Linked DNA regions of Homo sapiens: regions 2, 3 and 4 are each linked to region 1. The links come from fine-mapping of genetic effects on gene expression. A gene starts in region 1. Each other region holds a variant in brackets. All regions are shown on one strand. Distances are between the middles of the regions.

What was found. PIP is the estimated chance that this variant, and not a neighbour inherited with it, causes the effect.
Region 2: its variant is the best candidate, but not a certain one, in a credible set for the expression of B4GALT1 in whole blood (TOPMed, PIP 0.55).
Region 3: its variant is the best candidate, but not a certain one, in a credible set for the expression of B4GALT1 in whole blood (TOPMed, PIP 0.83).
Region 4: its variant is the best candidate, but not a certain one, in a credible set for the expression of B4GALT1 in whole blood (TOPMed, PIP 0.88).

The regions. Positions count from the first base shown.
Region 1 is chr9:33,164,302-33,169,522 of GRCh38, forward strand. It overlaps B4GALT1 (beta-1,4-galactosyltransferase 1), which reads right to left and starts at 3,035. Exons shown (of 6, transcript NM_001497.4): 1 at 2,457-3,035. The coding sequence starts at 2,868. It overlaps B4GALT1-AS1 (B4GALT1 antisense RNA 1), which reads left to right and starts at 2,647. Exons shown (of 3, transcript NR_108110.1): 1 at 2,647-2,745. RefSeq lists enhancers at 36-85, 2,886-3,451, 3,369-3,468, 3,452-4,016, 3,539-3,618 and silencers at 2,787-3,060, 2,819-3,218.
Region 2 is chr9:33,024,079-33,029,337 of GRCh38, forward strand. It overlaps DNAJA1 (DnaJ heat shock protein family (Hsp40) member A1), which reads left to right and starts at 1,195. Exons shown (of 9, transcript NM_001539.4): 1 at 1,195-1,305; 2 at 2,397-2,538; 3 at 2,735-2,912. The coding sequence starts at 2,407. It also overlaps a transcript of APTX not described here. RefSeq lists enhancers at 35-630, 953-1,247, 1,225-1,819, 1,776-1,845 and silencers at 1,106-1,255, 1,536-1,675. The variant C/T (reference allele first, on the strand shown) is at 2,265.
Region 3 is chr9:33,127,921-33,132,920 of GRCh38, forward strand. The region is part of intron 2 of B4GALT1 (beta-1,4-galactosyltransferase 1); the gene reads right to left. It overlaps LOC124902141 (a long non-coding RNA gene), which reads right to left and starts at 4,329. Exons shown (of 2, transcript XR_007061455.1): 1 at 2,356-4,329; 2 at 1-1,069. The variant A/G (reference allele first, on the strand shown) is at 2,959.
Region 4 is chr9:33,117,453-33,122,452 of GRCh38, forward strand. It overlaps B4GALT1 (beta-1,4-galactosyltransferase 1), which reads right to left. Exons shown (of 6, transcript NM_001497.4): 3 at 2,967-3,154. Among named protein-coding and RNA genes, the nearest start is that of MIR12117, 11 kb to the left of the region's middle. The variant T/C (reference allele first, on the strand shown) is at 2,811.

The sequences.
Region 1 (5,221 bases):
GCTCGACTCCCCCCACCCACACACTCCCAAGGAGACTTTCAGCTTTCTCAAGGCCTCATAGCCAGGAACCTCCATTCTGAGAACTGTACCTAACCACCCAAACCTACAGACCCTATTAAAATGAAGAAAAGACCTCTCGGCCCCCATTTCTGGGGCTGCCTCAGCAGCAGCCTAAACGTCATGGTCTCTTGCATGTCACATGAAAGCAGCCAAAATAGAGAAGGCACTCTCTCCTCGTCCTCCAAAATGTTCTTTCTCAGGAAGTCCTTTCAAGTAGCCAATTATAGTCCATTTAGAAACACCAGTAACTGGTGACAAGCCGATCACTAGCAACACCATTACAAAACAAAACTAAGCAGAGGTATGGTCACGACCTTGTCTCTTACGCTTCTGAGAGAAGATGTGATACTCAAATACCAATGTAATCAACTTTGCGGTACTTTTGTTTAACTTGCTAATTATTTTTTCTTTCTGTGCAATATCCAGGCAACAACTAAAAACAAAAGCAAAAAACCTGGCCTTTTTCTGGCCTGGAGACTCAGTCTCTCTCCCCCTTCACTCTGCTGTGCAGAGCCATTTCTGTGGGAGTCTGAAAAAATGAAACTTTTTAAAGATCCTAAGCAAATATTATTACTATATTATTATTATACGGTGTATTGAGTGCCCGTATTTTTTTTTTTTTTTTTTTTTTTAGACAGTCTTGCTTCGTCGCCCAGGCTGGAGTGTACTGGCACAATCTTGACTCACTGCAACCTCTGCCTCCCAGGTTCAAGCAATTCTCCTGCCTCGGCCTCCTGAGTAGCTGCGATGCCACCACCCCTGGCTAACTTTTTTGTATTTTTGTAGAGATGGGATGGTGTTTCACCATATTGGCCAGGCTGGTCTCAAACTCCTAACCTCAAGTGATCCACTCCCCTCAGCCTCCCAAAGTGCTAGGATTACAGGCGTGAGCCACCATGCCCAGCCTGAGTGCCTGTATTTAATGTACACGATCTCATTTAGTCTTAAAAAAACCCCTGTAAGGTAATCATCGACAACCACATTTTACACAAGGAAGAGATTTTGAGAAACTCGATAGCATGTCTCAAGTCAGACACTTAGCAGCAAGGCAGAGTCCATTTCATTTTATGGGACTAGTCTGCTTCCCAGAATAATCATCAAATGCAAAGGAATTTAATTATCTGCTTAAAAAAACAAGCCCCCATTATTACCACAGTTCACGTCTGACCAATTCCAAGATGTTCTTCCCAAACTTGATATGAACACATTGACGCAATTACTGGCGAAATTGAGCAAGAGTATGTAGTAGCCAGGGCTCTGTGGGAAAGTGACAGAAAACTCCTATTGGCAGGATGTCATCCTGCCTGCCAGGGCCCCTCACTTACAACAATTATCTAAAACCTAGCATTAGAAATGAGAAACCACCTGTGTGGTAACCCTGGAAGCAACCTGTGGTTGCCTTGGGCCTGTGGGCCTGTAGGTTACAGGTCAAAGAGAAGTCCAGACTAGGCTCAGCCAGCTGCTATGAGGAATGCAAACTCACCTACTCAAGCTCTCTGCCTATGCTGAAACAGGCTAGAGGTCAGAGTTCAGATCATCTGGGCAAGATAATTGAGACTCAGGCTGCTACCGGAAGTACCAGAAATGGGCAACGTGGTGTTGACTGGTTATATTTTAGCCCTCTAACACCCAGAGTACACAAGCTCTCTGCCCCTGGGAGAGATCCCTGCTCACCTAGGTTTTGGGTACCCATACCAGGAGGAGGCTAGGGGGAAGGGCTCTCGGTCACGATCCACACAGAGGAAGAAATGAACACACAGTGACAATTTACTGAGGGCTTACCCTCATTAATTAAGCCCTTATTTACCATTGTTCACAATATCTTCCAAAACAACCCCTTGAAAGGGTGACCATTTATTATCCCAGAAGAGAAATATGAGGTTCAGAGAGAAGTCACTTGGCCCAAACGATCAGGAGAAAAACCCACTCAGGAGAGTGGCTCTATGGCAAGACACGTGAACCGAGAGGTCAGTCTCCTTCCCCACCGGGAGCCTCACGTCAGTCCCCAAAAGGGAGTGGATTACTCGAGGTCCCTACCAGAGTTCTCAGTGCAAGGCTGCTCGAAGCCCTAAGCAGACCCAAACTCCAAAACTTCCTGAGCCTCGGGCCACAGCAGGGAAGTCTCCAAGGCCTTCTCTGGTTCTGGGGCTAGAGGGGCCTCGGGACTTCCCTGTGCGGTCCCGGCCCCACGCCTCCAACAGGACTCCCCAGGGACCCACCTCGCAAACCTTCTCTCCCATCCAGTCCCAAGCCTCTGTCTGGGATTTAAAACTCTGATCCAGAAGAGGGAGGCTGGCTGTCGTAGAAGAGCCAGCCTGAGGGAATGTCTGGGGGACCCTGTCGGGGAAATCCGGGGGGGTCCCAATCCTCCGACTGGCGCCGACCCGAGTCCTTACCAAGCAGCGGGGACTCCTCAGGGCAGGCGGGCAGCGACAGTGCGGTGGTGTGGGGCACTGGGACCGAGGTCAAGTTGCTAGCGGGGCCAGGGCCAGAATCCACGACTGGGCTGGAGTCGCCACCCGGGCGCGGCTGGGAGGAGGCGCCTAGAGGAGGCGGCGGCCGGGCCCCTCCGGTCCGGAGCTCCCCGGAGGACTGCCCGATGGCGGCGGCACTGTTCGAGCCGCCCTGCAGCGGTGTGGAGACTCCGACCAGTTGGGGCAGGCGGCTCAGGTCGCGGCCAGCCAGGTAGTAAACGAGGGTGACGCCAAGGTGCAGAGCGCAGACGGCCACGAGCAGGCGGCAGGCCCGCTGTAGGGACGCGCCTGGCATCGCGGCGCTGCCGCTCAGGAGCGGCTCCCGAAGCCTCATCTTCCCGCCGCCGCTTTAAGAAGGGTGTGGGCTACAGGAGGGGAGGCGACCCGCCCGCGGGCCGCCCGCCAGGCGCTGCCCCACAGCGGCGACTAGGGGAGGGCCCGGAGCGGGGGCGGGCGAGCGGCTGAGAGCTGAGACTCCTCCAGCCAGCCAGACCTGGGAGCGGCGAGAAGCCGCCCGAGGCGCCGGCGGAGAGGGGAGGGGCGGGGCCCCGGCGAAGGCGGGGGCGGGGCCGGGCGCGGGGTTTTCTGGACGAGGGCGGGAAGGCGGGGCAGCCCGTGGCGGGATGGGCGCGCTGGGCGGGGCCTCGGGAGGGTGGGCAGCGGGCGGGGCGCCGTCGTGGGGTCCCCGGAGTATGACTGCAGCTCCGACGCTTGGCCGCGCACCGCCCTCTTCCTCCCGAGCCTTTGCGGCGGAGCTTCGGTCGCGTTGAGCCGCGCCTCCTCTTCCTCCTCCACGCTGCCCTCGACAGGCCGCGCCACTTCCTGGGGTGCGAAGGGACTCGGGTGCGAGCCTGGGCCTGCAGCGCGGCGGCGGAGAGAACGGAGAGGACAGCTGGCGGGTGGTTATCTGGAGTGGTTTGGGGCCGCGGCGGCGTTCTGGCCAGTGGGCCTTGGTGGGCTAGGAAGAGAGGCAGAAAAAGGTTACCCAGGAAACGGGCTTCGACGCCGGGCGAGGAGTGGCACGTTCGAAACCCCCTCCCTAACTCAGCCCGGCTGGACCCCGCTGCTTAACGGGGGGTCCTGCGGCAAAGAAAGTGGACGGGTTGCCACTTCTGTGCCTCCCCATCAGGTAGCCTGGGCTATAAGGGGCTCTCAGACCAGCTTGGTTCCAGATGTGTGTGTGGCGGGAGTCCTGTATACTTTGAAGAGGAGAGCAGCAAGAAGCCTCTAACTCCCAGGCCAGCGTGCAGGAGATCAGCCGGCGTTACAGTCTACACTGGGCTACCCACTGTCCCATGAAGTAGCAGTTCTCCCCATGTCGTAGAGTGGGGCCCCGGCAGATTAAGAAACTTTCCTAAGAGCCCACAGCTGGCAAGAGGCAGAATTCTGGCTCCGAAACCCATGTTTTCTACAGGTTTACCCTTTGTTGATTTGCAAGTAAGGGCTGAAGGCTGTGTGGGTGAGAGACTTAGGCACTGAAGCCACTTGACCTCGATTTGACCCAGAGGCCTCAGGCCCTGAGTGAGCAGAGACACCTCACCCCAGAGAAAGACTCATGGAGGTGCTGTCAGTAATGTGGATAGGGAAGTTGAGGGCTCTGGCAGCCAACCATCAGGGAATAACAGTAGCTACCTTATTTTGAGAGTTTGCTGTGTGCCAGTACTATCTGCCATGAAGTAGGTGGTGTTACGGTGTCCATTTCACAGATGAGAAAATAAGGCTTATGAGTTGACACTTTGGTTGTGATCATACAGAATCAACTTTCCTCACTTGACTTCCTGGACACCAGGTCCTTCTGATCTTCCTCACTTCACTGGCCATTTCTGTCTCCTCTCTGGACTTCTTCCCCAGTTGCTGAAGGCCCCAGCCATAGTCCATGATGTTCTTTTGTGTCTACACTTACTGCCTCGGAATGATTTATAATATCCAAATGCTGATCACTGATTTGTCTCCAGCCCAGATCTCTTCCCTGACCTCCAGATTCAACTGCTTATTTTACTGGCATCTCAAACACAATACATCTTGCCCTCAGCAACCTACTCCTTACACACCACTCCCGTTCTTACCTCCCTCAGAGAGTGATACTATTGTTTATTCAGTTCCCCAGAATCTAAAAGGTGTCCTTGATGTGCTTCTCTTGCTCTCAATGCCATTTGCAAGCCCTCAGCCAGCTTTGTCAGTGCTACCTTCAAAACATCAAAATTCACCACCAGCCAACTCTGATGTAACCATCCTCGATCAAGCCACCATCATCTTGCCCTGGGTTATATGGCAGCTACTAATTGGTCACCCTGCTTCCACCTCCTCCATTCCTCCTCCCTAGTCTGTTTTCCACAGAGCATCCAGGAAATCTTTGTAAGCATAAATCAGATCATGCCATTTTGTTCAGAACCAAATCCACAGAAACCCTGTTCAATCTGGTTCCTATTTCCCTCCCCACCCACATCTGTCACTCTACCATGCTGGACCTGCCTTAGCCACACTAGCCTGATAGCTATTCCTTGAACTTGCCATATTTCTTCCTGCCTCAGGGCCTTTGTACTTGCTGTTCATTTAGCCTGAAACACTTGTCCCCAATATTTCATTCAATTCAGGTCTCTTAAATGTCACCTTATGACAGAGACCTTTTCAGACTACCTTATGCAGAATGGCCTCCTGCCCAAATCTGCTTAAACTGCTTGAATTTT
Region 2 (5,259 bases), 140 kb before region 1:
CCCTACTGACTTCTACCTCATGGTTTCTCTGGCAGTCTGTTGACTTGTTTGGCTTCTCACTAAAGTCTAACTGGGGCTTTTCAACTCTGCATCTCCAGTTCTGTTTTTGTTTTAAATCGAGACGGGGTTTCACCATGTTGCTTGGGCTGGTATCAAACTTCTGAGCTCACGCAATCAGCCCACGCTGGCGTCCCAAAGTGCTGGGATTACACACGTGAGCCACCGAGCGTGGCAAACTCCATCTTTCTTGGTGCTAGATACTGACATACCTGCTGTGTCCCTGGATAAAGAAGCGGACCCCAATTCCCATTAAGCCCCCGTGGTACCATTTTCAAGTCCGAGGTCTTACGTTGCAGATTGTACATCCAGGTTCCCTGACCCGTAGGATTTAAAAGTGAGGTCAAATAATTAAACAAATTGTTTTAGTCAGACACTCTTGCGGCTACTCTGTAGCCAAACTGGGTGAAAACCTGACCAGAGGAGTCCACGGCCCTCTGTACATCAAAGACGGTCCAAACGTCTCACTGTTTAGCTCAGTCCCAGACACACTGAGCTCAATCTGCACGAATCAGCGAGGTCCAGGGCAGATAACATGTGTCTAGGGGCCTGGACTTGCACAAAAAGCCTTAACAACTTCACAATTTGATTAATTATGCCGCCTTGGACCACGCGTGAAAAACAGCAAGACCCAAGGCCTATGCTATTGGTCTGGGGACTAGACCCACCTGGCTCAAGCATTTTTTGCTCGCCACGTTCCCAAAAAGAGAAGAGGCGCCCGTAAGAGGGGGGGGGGGGGGGGCAAGACTGTTCCAAGAGCTTTCCCGTTCACACACAGCTCCCGCTGGGTCACTGTACTCGAGCCCTTCCCGCCCTCGCGGGCCCAGGCGGCCACCCCACAGGTTTGGGAACCCTAGGACTTGCAGTGCTCCTGGGCCATGCCCCACCAGCCGGAGACTTCCGCACTCTCAGGCTCGCTGAGTGGAGAAAAGGGCTCCAGAAGATTCCACGAGCGCCGGGAAGCCGCGCTAGCACCAACACCCACAAGGCCTTTCGGCGCAGCTCCTCCCGACCCGTGCGCCCCCGCGCCGTTGCCCAGGTAACGGCGGGGCGGTGGCAGCGGCCGAGAAGGGCGGGACTTCCGGCGGGTGACGCGCCCGGGTTCGGCTACAAAAGAGGACGGCTGCGGCGCGCCGGGCGGAACTTTCCAGAACGCTCGGTGAGAGGCGGAGGAGCGGTAACTACCCCGGCTGCGCACAGCTCGGCGCTCCTTCCCGCTCCCTCACACACCGGCCTCAGCCCGCACCGGTGAGTTTGAGCCCTCGCGCTGCCCCTAGTCCCCTGGCTGGCGCCATTGGCGCCGGGAAACCGATGGAGCCGCGGTCGGGAGGCAGTTGGCCGCGTGGGTAGGACCGCTGTCAGTTCCTGGGCCCACGATTTCCCTTTTGGAGGGCTGGTGTGGTGCCCTGGCAACCCATCCCCGGCACGCACAGTGAATGGGCCCGAGACCTTTCCTAGACCTCCCTCCTTCCCCAGCCTGGGATCTCCAAGGAGCTACTGTCTTCGGCTGCCCCTCCGTGCGCGCCCCCGCGGCCCCCCTCCCCGTCCGTGCTCGCTCGGGGTGGGGGGGGGGAGTGGGGTTGGCGACCCTGCGCACGCGCACAGGGAGGCAGGGGCGAGGGGCTGCGGGGGGAGCCGGGCGGAGACTGCGGCTTTTGGTTTCGCTTTCTCTGTTTCCCCTCCCTTTGTTTGTTGAGGGCTGGGCTTTCCCCACCGCCACTTGGGTCCAGGGTGGGAGGGAGAAAGGAAGGAAATCGGTCAGCGCCAAGTGCAAGGGGAAACCTGGCAGGTAAACTCTGCCAGCCTGAGGGGCGAGAGGGATTCGGCTGGAGAAGCTGTAAGCCGTGGGCGGTGGAGGGCTTGCTGTGTGGAGCCAGTAACCTGTTCTATAAACCACTCCCCCCCACCACTGTGTGCCCAGACGTCTTTTTCTGGAGAGTATATGGAGTTTATCAGATTTGCCAAAGACAGTGATAGTGTAATGACCGGTAGACTGAACATATCAGTGCTTCTTTTGGTTACAACTGTCACCGCCTCTAGGGCAAACGGGAAGAATCCAGATAATAGTTGTGTTATATTAGTATGGAAGCTTTGGTGTAGGAAAATTGGAACCAGCTGCTAGAAGGCGGCTCTCAGATTATTTCCCGATAATGATTATTTGTTTTGTCTGTTCGAGTTTATAGCTGAATTATCGCAGGAATTGTTAC[C/T]TTTTTGGTGAAATTTAGGGAAGGTGGTGTTCTTATAATCGGATTTTGCAAAGAGATTGCTCGGCCTTAGCTCTCTTTTTTATTAAAAGCTACCAGTTGAAAGCCGGTTAAAGTTGCATTTTCTTATTTCAGGCAGTAGAAGATGGTGAAAGAAACAACTTACTACGATGTTTTGGGGGTCAAACCCAATGCTACTCAGGAAGAATTGAAAAAGGCTTATAGGAAACTGGCTTTGAAGTACCATCCTGATAAGAACCCAAATGAAGGAGAGAAGGTGAATAGTATCTACTCTTAAACGTATCTGAATAGTTCTTTGCCAGACGTATAGTATTTCTATTATGGCCTGAAATCGAGTATCTAATATAGTAACTATGATCACTTCTCGGCCTTTTTAGCTAAGATCAAGTGTAATGTAGCTAGGTAACACTTGTTTTTTAAAAAATGAAATTCACTCCTCTTTTCTCAAACAGTTTAAACAGATTTCTCAAGCTTACGAAGTTCTCTCTGATGCAAAGAAAAGGGAATTATATGACAAAGGAGGAGAACAGGCAATTAAAGAGGGTGGAGCAGGTGGCGGTTTTGGCTCCCCCATGGACATCTTTGATATGTTTTTTGGAGGAGGAGGAAGGATGCAGAGAGAAAGGAGAGGTAAGAAGAATCTAGTCTTTGTGCAGCTAACTAAAGTTAGCTGTTGGTCAGAGCAGATCTTTGAGAAATCACCCATTTTAAATGCTTGTTTACATGTTGGTATAATGTTGCAAACTGACCACAAATTGCCTCTGATTTATGGTGTCGTGTTTTTTTGTTGTGGTTTTTTTTTTTTTTTTCTTGAGACGGAGTTTCCCTCTTATTGCCCAGGCTGGAGAGCCATGGCGTGGTCTCAGCTCACAGCAACCTCCACCTCCCGGGTTCAAGCGATTCTCCTGCCTCAGCCTCCCAAGTAGCTGGGATTACAGGCATGTGCCACCAAACCCGGCTAATTTTGTATTTTTAGTAGAGATGGGGTTTCACCATGTTGGTCACGCTGGTCTTGAACTGCAAACCTCAGGTGGTGATCCACCTGCCTTGGCCTCCCAGAGTGCTGGGATTACAGGTGTGAGCCACCATGCCCAGCCAGTGGTGTCGCTTTTTTTAAAATGAGATTTAAGGGGCCTAAAAAATAGCCAACAGAGTGGTAGCAAATGACTGCTTCCAAAAATCTTAGATATTATCAAACAAATTATGAGAACAGGCCGCGTGCTGTGGCTCATTCTGTAATCCCAGCACTTTGGGAGGCCGAGGTGGGTGGATCACTGAGGTCAGGGTTCGAGACCAGCCTGGCCAAGATGGTGAAACCCCATCTCTACAAAACTACAGAATTAGCTGGGCGTGGTGGTGGGCATCTGCAATCCCAGCTCCTCTGGAGGCTGAGGCAGGAGAATCGCTTGAACCCTGGAGGCAGAGGTTGCAGCGAACGGAGGTCACGCCACTGCACTCCAGCCTGGGCAACAAGAGTGAATCTCTGTCACAAAAAACCCAAAAAAATCCAAAAATTAGCCAGGCATGGTGGTGCGTGCCTGTAATCCCAGTTACTCAGGAGGGCTGAAGCAGGAGAGTCGCTTGAACCCGGGAGGTGGAGGTTGCAGTGAGCTGAGATCGCCCAATTACACTCCAGCCTGAGCAACACAGCGAGACTCTTGTCTCAAAAAAAAAAAAAAAAAAAAAAAAAGACAAAGTATATAGCAATATAATTTTCCAAGCCCTTTTTACAGATCTTATTTGGTGTTCCCTCACTCCCCAAAGGAATTTGATGGTAGGTACAGTGGCCTTTTTCAAATGGGAGTAAGTTAAAGTTCAGAAACCTAAAACTTCTTCAAGCTCATATAGCAAGCCAACAGAGCCAGGGCTGAAAACTGGTTCGTTGCCTGCCATCTATCTATTCTTGTTTCAGCTTTATTGTGTCAAAATTATGTATTTAATATGTTTATCAGGAAAGTGGCCTATGGGCTCTAGAAATACTGCTTATAGGAGTAAAATGTTCAAGAGAAATCAGTCTCACTTTATTTCCAGTATAGTGTATACAAATAAGGGCTGATGAGCAGAACCAGTTTTAGAATGAATGGCCAAGCCATTAAATTTCACTTTGAGCTTCTTAAGGTTCAGAAAGATTTGGGAAATTGTTTATTCAGTTTTTCTTTAAAGATCTTCAAGGAAAGGATTATGTTTTTATTAAGATACTTAAACTCCTTAAAAAGAAAGTCCACAATCCAAATGACTTGCTTAGTAAATTGTTAGAATTTGTCCACAAAAAAGTAGTGGTGGTTTTTCACTTACCTTACAAAGAACCTGCAGGTTAACATTGGCAAGCTCTTTTATGTGGCTTATGATCATATTGAGAGGTTATTTCTGGGGAAATGCGCTTCATCAAGCTCTAGAAGCTTTATTTTTCCTTCCTTATACTCAACACTGTTCAAAATAAGGGCAGCTAGATTTTAGCGTGCCAAAACTAAAGGTGGAACTATAAGCAGAAGGACATAATTAATGGTATTTCATGCTTGATTAGAAAGTTAAAATGTTCATTAGGCATATTGTACAGAAACGAGTTTGAGAACTTTTTTCAGTTGGTGGAAAGGCAATAATATTGTTGTGAATAAGTCCTTGTGGAAGGACCACTAGTTAGGAACTTACTAACTTACTAGCAGGTGACTTCATACTTCTAACCTCAGTGTCCTTATGAGATCTTGACCTTCCATTTCCTATTCTGATTTAAGTGAAGTAAGGCACTCCTTAGTAGCCACTGGCCATGTGTGGCTCCATTAATTTAAGACAAAAACAAAAATACGGTTTCTTAGTCTAAATGGCCACATTTACATGCTCAATAAGCACATGTGATTGGTGGCTGCTACGTTGGACAGAACAGATATAAAACATTTATCACTGCAGAAAGTTCTGTTGGGCAATGCTATTATAAAAGGTATGAGAAATTTGGCCTTCAAAACAACCAGTGCTGGCCCAG
Region 3 (5,000 bases), 36 kb before region 1:
TTGCCTAGGAGACCCCAGGGCCTGAGGATGGCACACTCATGGGATTATTTACATAGCCTCCCCCTGACCAGCAGGGCCCTGGCTCTGGGTTGATTTGAGGACATGTGAACATTACCAGGGTGGTGGTGGCAGCGGTGGTGGCAGCAGCAGTGGCAGCGGTAGTTAGGTCGGCATTCCTCTCTCTCTCTCTCTCTCTAGGAGGCGGAAAGTACAGAAGAGAAGGTAGGTGGAGAATAAGAAGCAGATCAGAGAGGAACTCCTCCTTCCACTTGCTTTGCTACAAACAGGATTAACAAGTAAAGGTAAAAGGCCCCTGCTAGAAGGAAAACAAAAAAGAAGAAAAAGAGAAAAGGGTGGATGCAAGGGAGAGAGGTGAGGAAAAGAGAGGCAAATGTCAAAGCTGCAAGGGAAAAGGGGCCCATTCTGATGACCACTGTTCCAATGCAAAAACAAATTCCTAATAAGCTGTCATTCCTTGTCACAGAGTCATGGGTGAGCAGAAAAAATGGCATTTCCCAGAACAATGTCCATGGAAGCAATTCACCAGCAAATTGAGTCCCCAGAGAACAGAGACACACATAGACTAGGTGGGGCACACAGCAAAGGGGCAACACTCAAACAGTGATGGTGCAGAGACACTCCCTGGCCTTCCCACTCCCATTCCCCACCCCGGCAAGCTCCAAAGGGTCCAAGTGCCCGAAGGAAGGGGAGGCTACAGGACAGGACCAGCCCTACCCCACTCCTCCCAAGCTCCGTTCCCACACACATCAATCTGTGCACTGACAGCTGAGGTAGAAAATGGAAGGCCGGGATGGGGGGATGGTAGAGATGATCAAGATAGAAACCAAACCAATGAGGCCATAAGCCCAGGCAGCTGTCCTCACTAATGGGATAGACCCAGGAGTCTGCTTCTCCCCAGTTGATCTTGACCTTGTGTAGGAACCAGCTGCTTGGACCAGTGACAGAGACAACTGCTGAGGTAGGGTGACAGATACTCTTGCTCACTGAGGGTACAAAGGACTGTCTCCAAATCCATCCTCAACCAGCCTGGAACTATCACCCCATCATCCTAAAACAGTGCACAGAAGAAAAGGAAACAGTAGAAAACTTCAAAGCCAGACAGAGTCCTCAGGGCAGCCCTCCCTCCATTTCTCCACAGCCTTTCAGGCAGGCTCCAGCTCTGCTTCCTGGCCATCGTGTGCTTACCTGTGGAGCCTTCCCTCTGCAGGAACAATCAGAAGACCATTTGCCTTACTCTGGGGGATGGGGGGAGGTGGGAGGTTCAAAATTCAAAGTGAGACCATAAAGGTGCTGAGTCCAAAGGACCCTAAAGGAGTTTTGTGACCATTAACAATCACAAGGCTAAGGTATTAATAGGTTTTCTGCATTTTTCCTGATAAGGGAGGTCACCCCAAGGACTGTCACAGGCAGCCTGTGCTCTGGTCAGCATTGAGCTGGAAGCTTCGGGGAGAGGCCCAAGGGAGGGATCCTGCAAGTTCCCAAGGGTCAGGACCTGGCCCCACTGGGAACGGAGGCTTCACTTCCAAGAGGCACAGATTTAGGCAGAAGACCAGGAGTAGGGAGTCCTGAGACTAGGGATAAACAAAGGGGCAGGAATCCTGGAGAGAAGCCCCGTGCTCCACTCACTGACTGCGTCTGTACTGACTATGTACCAGCTGTGTGGTCAGAGAGAAAGAAGGGAGGCAGACATGAGGGACTCAGAGTCCGGGGGCTGGGGTGAGGCTGGAACTCAGATAATCATCCCTTTCCAGAAAGTTCTGAGCAGCCTGGGAGCAGCAGGGAAGGAGAAGTCAGCTCTATTCCAGGGGCTCCACAGAACTAATGAGGTTGGGGAGGGAAGCTTAAAAGATAGCCAGAGACACACTAGGAACACAGGGGACAGCATAAGCAAAGGCACACAGAGGGGAGAACAGAGGTGTCTGGGTGGAGATGGGGAGTCCAGTGAAGTGGAGAGGAGGAGGAAGTGGCTGGAGGTAGGTCAGGGTCTCGGATGCTAAGCTTGGGCCTTCCGACCATTTAGACCGTTGCCTGTAGGCAGTCGTGAAATGCTAACAGGTTTAAAAGAGGAAGTAACATGGTCAGAACCAGAAAAATCCTGGGCAGCTGAGGGAGAGGAACAGAGGTGCCAGAAGATATGCAATCGGAATTGGAGAGACCAGTTCTGTGTACTGGCTGTGGGGCAAAGGGCTGCCATGGTTGTGACAAACCCACCTGGCCAGCTGTGCCTGCATTCCTTACTCATTTTGTAATTTTTATGATGGGCAATCCCACAAACATTCTGCATTCCTTAATTTAGGGCTAGTGCTACCAGGTGGTGACCTGCCCTCCCTTCACCTTGAGTGAAGTCTCGTTTCCGGGTTTGAGTATTAGGAAATGCAGCATGCATCCCTGTTTGCTATGATGTCTTCTCCTTCTGTTGCTTCTTTTCTTGCTGCCGTTGAAGTTGGAATGCTATATCTTGAAATCCACGTCTCAGAGTACAAGGAGTCAAATAGTATTCTCCCATGCTGGTGAGCTAAGGTCAGGGGTGGGAGGAGAGACCTTAAGGAAAAAGAGCAACTCTTGTTCTTCTATATCTCAACCAGGAAAGCCTCTCCCGGCTCATTCCTTCAATATCCTTATTTTAAGATATAAGTTAGTACAATAATTACAGAGGCATAAGCCAAATGGGAGTGGTTAACAGCTTACTATAGACAGAGTATGAGTCATAACAACTTGTGAAAGTTCACTCCTGTGTGTAAAGCTTGATACGTGGCCCTATTTTGAAGAGGCTTATAGGCCCGGGATGGCCTCTGAGATTCTGCCACCTGGCTCACTCCACTATCCATTACCCTCTGACTCCAAGGAGTTCAAACCAATAGGAGGAAGGGTCCTGATGCGGGCCCTGAGTGGGGGTGCAGCAGGAGGCGGTGGGAGCCATGAAGAATTCACCACCAC[A/G]GAAGCAGGCAGAGGAAGCAGGCAGAGGAAACAGGCAGGATGAATGGAGAGTGGAGAGGCAGGAGTGGACCCTCCTAGTAACGGCTGGTATTTACTGAAGGTTTACCATGAGAAGGATGCCTCATAACCCTCCCCACCAAGGAGGAAACTGAGGCCTGCAGAGCTTAAGTAACCTGCCTGAGGTCACTGACTGTAAAGTGGCAGTGCCAGGACTGAACCCAGGCAGTCTGAGCACACAGCACACTCTCAGCCCTGGATACCAGACTGTGAGCAACACTGGGGGCACCCTGGCCATGAGGAGTGTCACTGATGCCCTGAGAAGGCACTAAACCTGGAGTCAGACGCTGGGGTTTGAGCCGCAGCCCTACTGTTGTCTATGTGACTTTCGGAGCCTGTCCCTCTCTGAGCCTGTTTCCTCACCTGTGACATGGAGCAGAAGTTTCTACATTGTCTGGCCTCAGGGGTCTAGGCAAATCCTAGCAGTGACTGAATGGGAAGCCAAGGAAGTGGAAATGGGACATGGCCCCTACTTCAAGTAGAATGAAACCCTTGTGACCTGCTGTAAGCGGAAGGTTGTGTAGCATTTCAATGGGGCAGAAAGAAATCTGATACTGAAAAGCCTGTTTGGGAACCCTTGGACTAAATGTCTCAGAAGCCACTCCATTTTGAGCATTACTTCTGTCTAATCTTAAATGGTATGTGTGTGTGTGTACATGTGTGTGCATGTGTATGTGTGTGTGGGAATGAAAAGTCAAAATGACAGCAGGGTGTCTGGGCCAGGGATAAGCTGAGAGGCTATAAAGAGGGCTAACAGCCCATAAGGTTTATTTGCTCAACAAACAGTGCAGAAAGGTCAAAACCAGGTGCTACAAAATCCCTTTCTTCTTCTAGAATATAACCATAAAACAGATAACACAGGCAGTTCCTAATTTGTAGACAGGATGTGCTCCAAATGTTTCTCCTTCCACCTCTTTTTTTTCAGGGTTCAGGTTTCCCATTACCATTTTATTATTTATTAGGTAATATTCTTTACTGGAAAGGTATGGCAGAGTTTAAGCATTTCTCAACTTAGTTATCTGGACTCTGACCATATTTTCCCAAAATGATCAATTAGGGTGAGATTGGAGCAGATGATAAGAGAGTAGCTGGGGAAGTGGGAGAAAAAGCAGAAAAGATTCTCCTAAGGTGGAAAGTTAACCCTTGGAGAAGGAAAGGATGAAGAGAAAAAAAAGTATGAGGAAAAGCAAAGAAAAAAAAAAGATGATATTGACAAGATAAGAAAAAAGGAGGTATATATGTTTGAAAAACCAAAACTAAAATATTCCTGATGCTAAGTTGTGAAGTGGGAAGAGGAGGGAGGGAGGGAGGACGGGCAGTTCCTAGTGTTCCAGGGAAAGCAGGGAGGCAGCTGGGAGGAGATGCTAACTTAGGCCCGCTTTCCCCAAAGTGTGACTCACAAAACACTCATCACTTGAGACGGTTCTTGGAAAAGTTGTCTCGTCAGGCAAGCTCAGGAAACACTTCTGGGGTTACAGTGTACACCGGGGTACCAAAGGCTCTGCGGGAATGAGACCTGCTTTACATGGTTCAACCCAACATTCCTCAAGCGTATTTCGCTCCATTTGGGGAAGCACACTTTTGGAGAAGCACTCTCTTAGGTGGTGCCCAGTGTTAGCCAGCACAGCTGTGCCACCGGTCTGAGCTGGCTTGGTTAGTTGTTCCATCTACTCGGATTGAGGTGGGCAGGAGCATGTAGCTGGCAGAGGACATTCAGAAATCTACTGTGTTGAGCCTGGGGAGTATGTAAATTGTATCATAGGAATTTAAGCTGATGGCTAGATTTTACTGGTCCAATATTTGACTTCAAAACAGGGAAGTCTCACATTCACCTAAACTGCAACATATCTAGACGTAGCATCCCACCCTCCAGTCTTCCTTGAAAACAGCCACCTCAGTTCAAAAATTCAGCATCATCGCTAACTCTTTTATCCTCTTTACCCAAGTATATATTTTATTTATTTATTTATTTATTTTATTTTTTT
Region 4 (5,000 bases), 47 kb before region 1:
TCAAGAATCAGGACGTGCCCCAAAGCCTTCCTGTGGGTTCTCTAAAGGCTGTGGTTTTGTGTGACTCTGAGTGCAGCTCCAAACCACACCCAGCTCTTTCTGGAATCCAAAAAGACCAAACCCATCACATAAATTAAGGAAAACTCTAACTCAGACTTTGAGGGGGAAGTCAGCCAAACCATACAGAACATATGAAAATAAAGATGCAATTATTATTTTCAAATATATTCAGGAATTCTGACTGTAAGGATCCTCAAGCAAAGGTCCCCAGGGGGTCTGCTTTAATGAACCTATTCGTAATTAGGTGTCATCACTTAGGTGCTGAGTCATCCACCTTTGGCACACCTCATACTACTGTCCACATTATTAATGTGAGGGTTTGAACCAAAGGTGGCCAGGCCAATAAGGTTTTCTGATAATCAGTGCTTTTACAGAAATGGATTCTTAGCTATTTCAGAGGGAAGTACATGCCAAGCTGACATGATTTGGTTTTGCTGTCTCTGCTGCTTTCTCTCCCCTATCTGCCCCAAGCCCAAACCTGCCAGGCTCCTTGTGAAACAAACATGGTGCTGTGGCAAAGAATTAGGGCATCACGGGCCCCTTCCTTGTTCACCACTGTGCTTCAAGGGATGAATCAAGAGGGGTCAGGGTATAAACCTGTGTGTTTCAAGAGAAGAAGATACACACACGGAGAGGGAGGAAGGGTGAAAGCGGGGACGGAAGGGTATAGAAGGATTTCTGAAGAGTCTAAAAGTAAGGTTACATTCAAATTTTCCTCCCTTTAAGACAAGAAGTTAGGATTTTTGATCTGGGAGAAGGACTTCATACATTCCTATATTCCCATCACAGCTCTCATGCTCCCAGCAAGGGAGGACAGGAAGAAATGATGAGAATAAAATGAGTCTGACAGAAAGCTGTTGCATCTCAGCAGGTGCAGTAGTTCATGCCTGTCATCCCAGCACTTTGGGAGGTCAAAGCAGGAGGATTGCTTGAGCCCCCAGGAGTTCAAGACCAGCCTGGGTAACATAGTGAGACATCTCTAAAAAAAAAAATTTTTTTTTTTTTAAATCAGCCAGGGGTGCTGGCCCACACCTGTGGTCCCAGCTACTAGGAAAGCCGAGGTGAGAGGATCACTTGAGCCAGGGAGTTTAAGGCTATAGTGAGCCATGATCACGCCACTGCACTCCAGGCTGGGTGACAAGCAAGACTCTGTCTCAAAAAAAATAAAAGAAAAAGAAAAAAAGTTGTATCTAAAATAAAGGGTCTGCTGTCTACATGAGCCAACCACACTGTACTAGTCAGCCTAAACCAGGGGTACCCAACATAGAGGGTACCTGCAGCACAGCTCCTGGATCTTCAGATTCACTTAAAGCAAGGAAGGAAAGGGTTTTGTTATTCAACTGATAGGTTTTTTTTTTTCTTTCTCTGAGACAGAGTCTTGCTCTGTTGCCCAAGTTGAAGTTCAATGGCGCGATCTCAACTCACTGCAACCTCTGCCTCCCGGGTTCAAGCAATTCTCCTGCCTCAGCTTCCCGAGTAGCTGGGATTACAGGCACCTGCCACCACACCTGGCTAATTTTTGTATTTTTAGTAGAGACAGGGTTTCACCATGCTGGTCAGGCTGGTCTCGAACTCCTGACCTCAGGTGATCTGCCCGCCTCGGCCTCCCAAAGTGCTGCGATTACAGGCACGAGCCACTGCACCTGGCCACTGACAGGTAATTTAAAACACTTTTATGTTAATATAAACACGGAATTAGGAAACAATATACAAGTTTATTTATATATTTACTTTTAAGACAAAACAATGGACTATAAGGCCATTTTCCACCAATGACAATATGCTTTGGATAATACGCTAGTCGGGCATCTGGGCTGGCCACTTCACTAGGGGCATTTTGGTGGAAAAATTTGGGCTTTGTATTTAAGCAGAAGTTTGTGCCCTGCTGGAAAACAGAATCACATTCCTTCTTATAGGGCCAAGGGCGGGAGCAGTGGTTCACACCTGTAATCCCAATGCTTTGGAAGGCTGAGGTGAGAGGATCACTTGAGCCCAAGAGTTCAAGCCCAGCTTGGGCAACATAGCCAGACCTCATCTCCACTAAAAATAAAAAATTAGCTGGACATGCTGGCTCATGCCTGTAGTCCCAACTACTCAGGAGGCTGAGGCTGCAGGATGGATTGAGCCCAGGCAGTCAAGGCTGCAGTGAGCCATGATTGTGTCACTGCACTCCAGCCTGGGTGACAGAGCAAGACCCTGTCTCAAAAACAAAACAAAACAGGCCAAGGAACATCTGCTGAGGTATACAAGCTAAATAATTCAGTGGGGGAAAACTATTCCAATTTACTTTCCAAAACTTGTGGGGCAAGAGAAAGAAAAAAGCAAGAAAATACAGTATCATTTGGAGCTTAAAGATGAGAGCCCCTCCCAAATGCTAAAAACTGTTCTTAGGCCAGGCATGGTGCCACATGCCTATAATCCAGCACTTCGAGAGGCCAAGGCAGATGGATTGCTTGAGCTCAGGAGTTCGAGACCAGACTGGGCAATACAGCAAAACCCCATCTCTACAAAATATACAAAAATTAGCTGCGCATGGTGGCAAGTGTTTGTAGTCCCAGCTACTCAGGAGGCTGAGGTGACAGGATGGCATGAACCCGGGAGGCAGAGGTTGCGGTGAGCCAAGATCACGGCACTGCACTCCAGCCTGGGTGACAGAGCCAGACCCTGTCTCAAAAAACAAACAAAAAAAAAAAAGGGGGGAAAATTTGTTTTTGTCTGGATGTGCAGAGACTACAGGCATTTCTGGTCTC[T/C]TCTTTCCATCTCAACTAATACAAAGCACCCATTTCTCAGAGGAGGCATTCTGCTCCAGAGCTTAAAGAGGCACTCTTGAGCTGCCAGGACTGCATTTCCTAGTCAACACATGAGAGAGACATGTTTACCACAGATTCTGACTGAGTATCTCTTACCTGAATCCAAACTTATCCATTGCAACGGAAATGTGCCGTGGCTGTGAAAAACACCTGTACGCATTATGGTCATTCATTGGAATGAGGTCCACGTCACTAAACACAAAGCAGGTGTAGTCATAGTCCTTCAAGGCTTCTTGAAAGCCAACATTGAGGAGCTTAGCACGATTGAATATAGTGTCTCCCGCCTGGTGCAGAAACAAAAACAGTGATATCAAATGCCTTAAAGCCTTTGGGCCAAACACTCACAGGGACTGGTGACTTGTCCACTACACATGGTCACTAGGAAACTCTTGGGCCTCACTTTTCTGCCGTCACTCTACAATCAACACAGAGTACCAAAACCTCTGAGTCAGCAATTCCCCTCTAGAAATATATCCTGCAGAAGGACTTGCATGTGTGTGAATGACTATGAACAACATTGTCACTGTGGAATGTTCATCATAACAAAAGACTGCAAAAAACAGAATAATCAGTAGGGAACTGGTTCAATAAATCATAGTACATCCATACAATGGAATGGAACTGTTAAAAAGAGGCAGCTCTAAAAGGAAAGGTGAAAAAGGCATTTAAACACATACATCATTTATTTATACACACTATAAATAAACTCCAGGAAAGGTATCCAGGAAACTGGTGACATTAGTTGGGTACCTATGGGACTTTTCACTTCTACCTTCCTTATATGGTTGACTGAGGTTTGATGACCACATTGTGTGCCTTCCATCTACCTGTCAAGCACAAACCTAGGCACCTGAGAAATACAGCAAACCCAACTCAACCTCTGCCCTCACAGTGCTCACCATGGAGGGCAGAAGGCCATGCCATACACACCAGGACAGAAGCAAGGTGTGCAAGACAGAAGAGGGACACCTGCTTCAGGGTGCCAACCACGAGGTCCCCAGGCACCAAGTGTGCTGGTGCAAAGGGAATGCATATTTTTATTTTTATTTTTTATTTTTGAGATGGAGTCTTGCTTCATCACTGAGGCTGGAGTATAATGGTATGATCTTGGCTCACTGCAACCTCTGCCTCCAGGATTCAAGCGATTCTCCTGCCTTAGCCTCGCGAGTAGCTGGGATTACAGGCATGTGCCACCATGCCCGGCTTTTTTTTTTTTTTTTTTTTAATTTTCAGTAGAGATGGGTTTCACGTTGGCCAGGCTGGTTTCAAATTCCTGACCTCAAGTGATCCGCCTGCCTTGGCCTCCCAAAGTGCTAGGATTACATGTATGTTTTATTTGTTTTCTTTCAGTAAGAATGTAAGCTCAATGAAGGTTAGGATGTTTTGTTTTTTTTATTCACCCAGTTCCTTGAAGACTGCTTCTCACACAATAAGAGCTCAACAAATAGTTGCTGGTTGGCTGAATGAATGAATGAATGAATGGGGTTCAACATACAATGGCAGATGGTGATCCCTTCTGGGAAGCTCGACCAAAGAGCCCTGTGAGGGGTCACCACAGGGATCACATTGTGGGGTAGAGTTGGGAATCTGGTCTTATCAATTCCCATGGCCCCAGGTTAGTAAGGACAAACCTAGCACTGACATTGCCACGCCTCACTCTCAGCAGTTCACAAAGCCTCCTGCACACATGCTGTTATCCTAACCAGAATCTTCACAACACCAACATGAGGAAACGAACTAAGGCCCAATACTTTGGAATCCTCATTCAATGCTCTTTCCCATCTCTCTTGGGATCAACATAGTCAGAGCCCTCTACTTTGGGGAAAAAGTGTGTCATAGGGGCTTGCGACTGGTACACAATCTCAAAAGTGGGATGCTCAAAGTCTTCTCTCCATGCCCTCAAAAGATGACCTGGGCTGGGCATGGTGGCTCACACTTGTAATCCTAACACTTGGGAGGCCAAGGTGGGCAGATCACTTGAGTCTAGGAGCTCGAGACCAGCCTGAGCAACATGGTGAGACTCTGCCTCTACAAAAAATTACAAAAATTTGCCAGGCATGGTGGTCCCTAGTACTCTGGAGGCTGAGGTAGGAGGCTCAACTGATCCCAGGGAGGTTGAGGTTGCAGTGA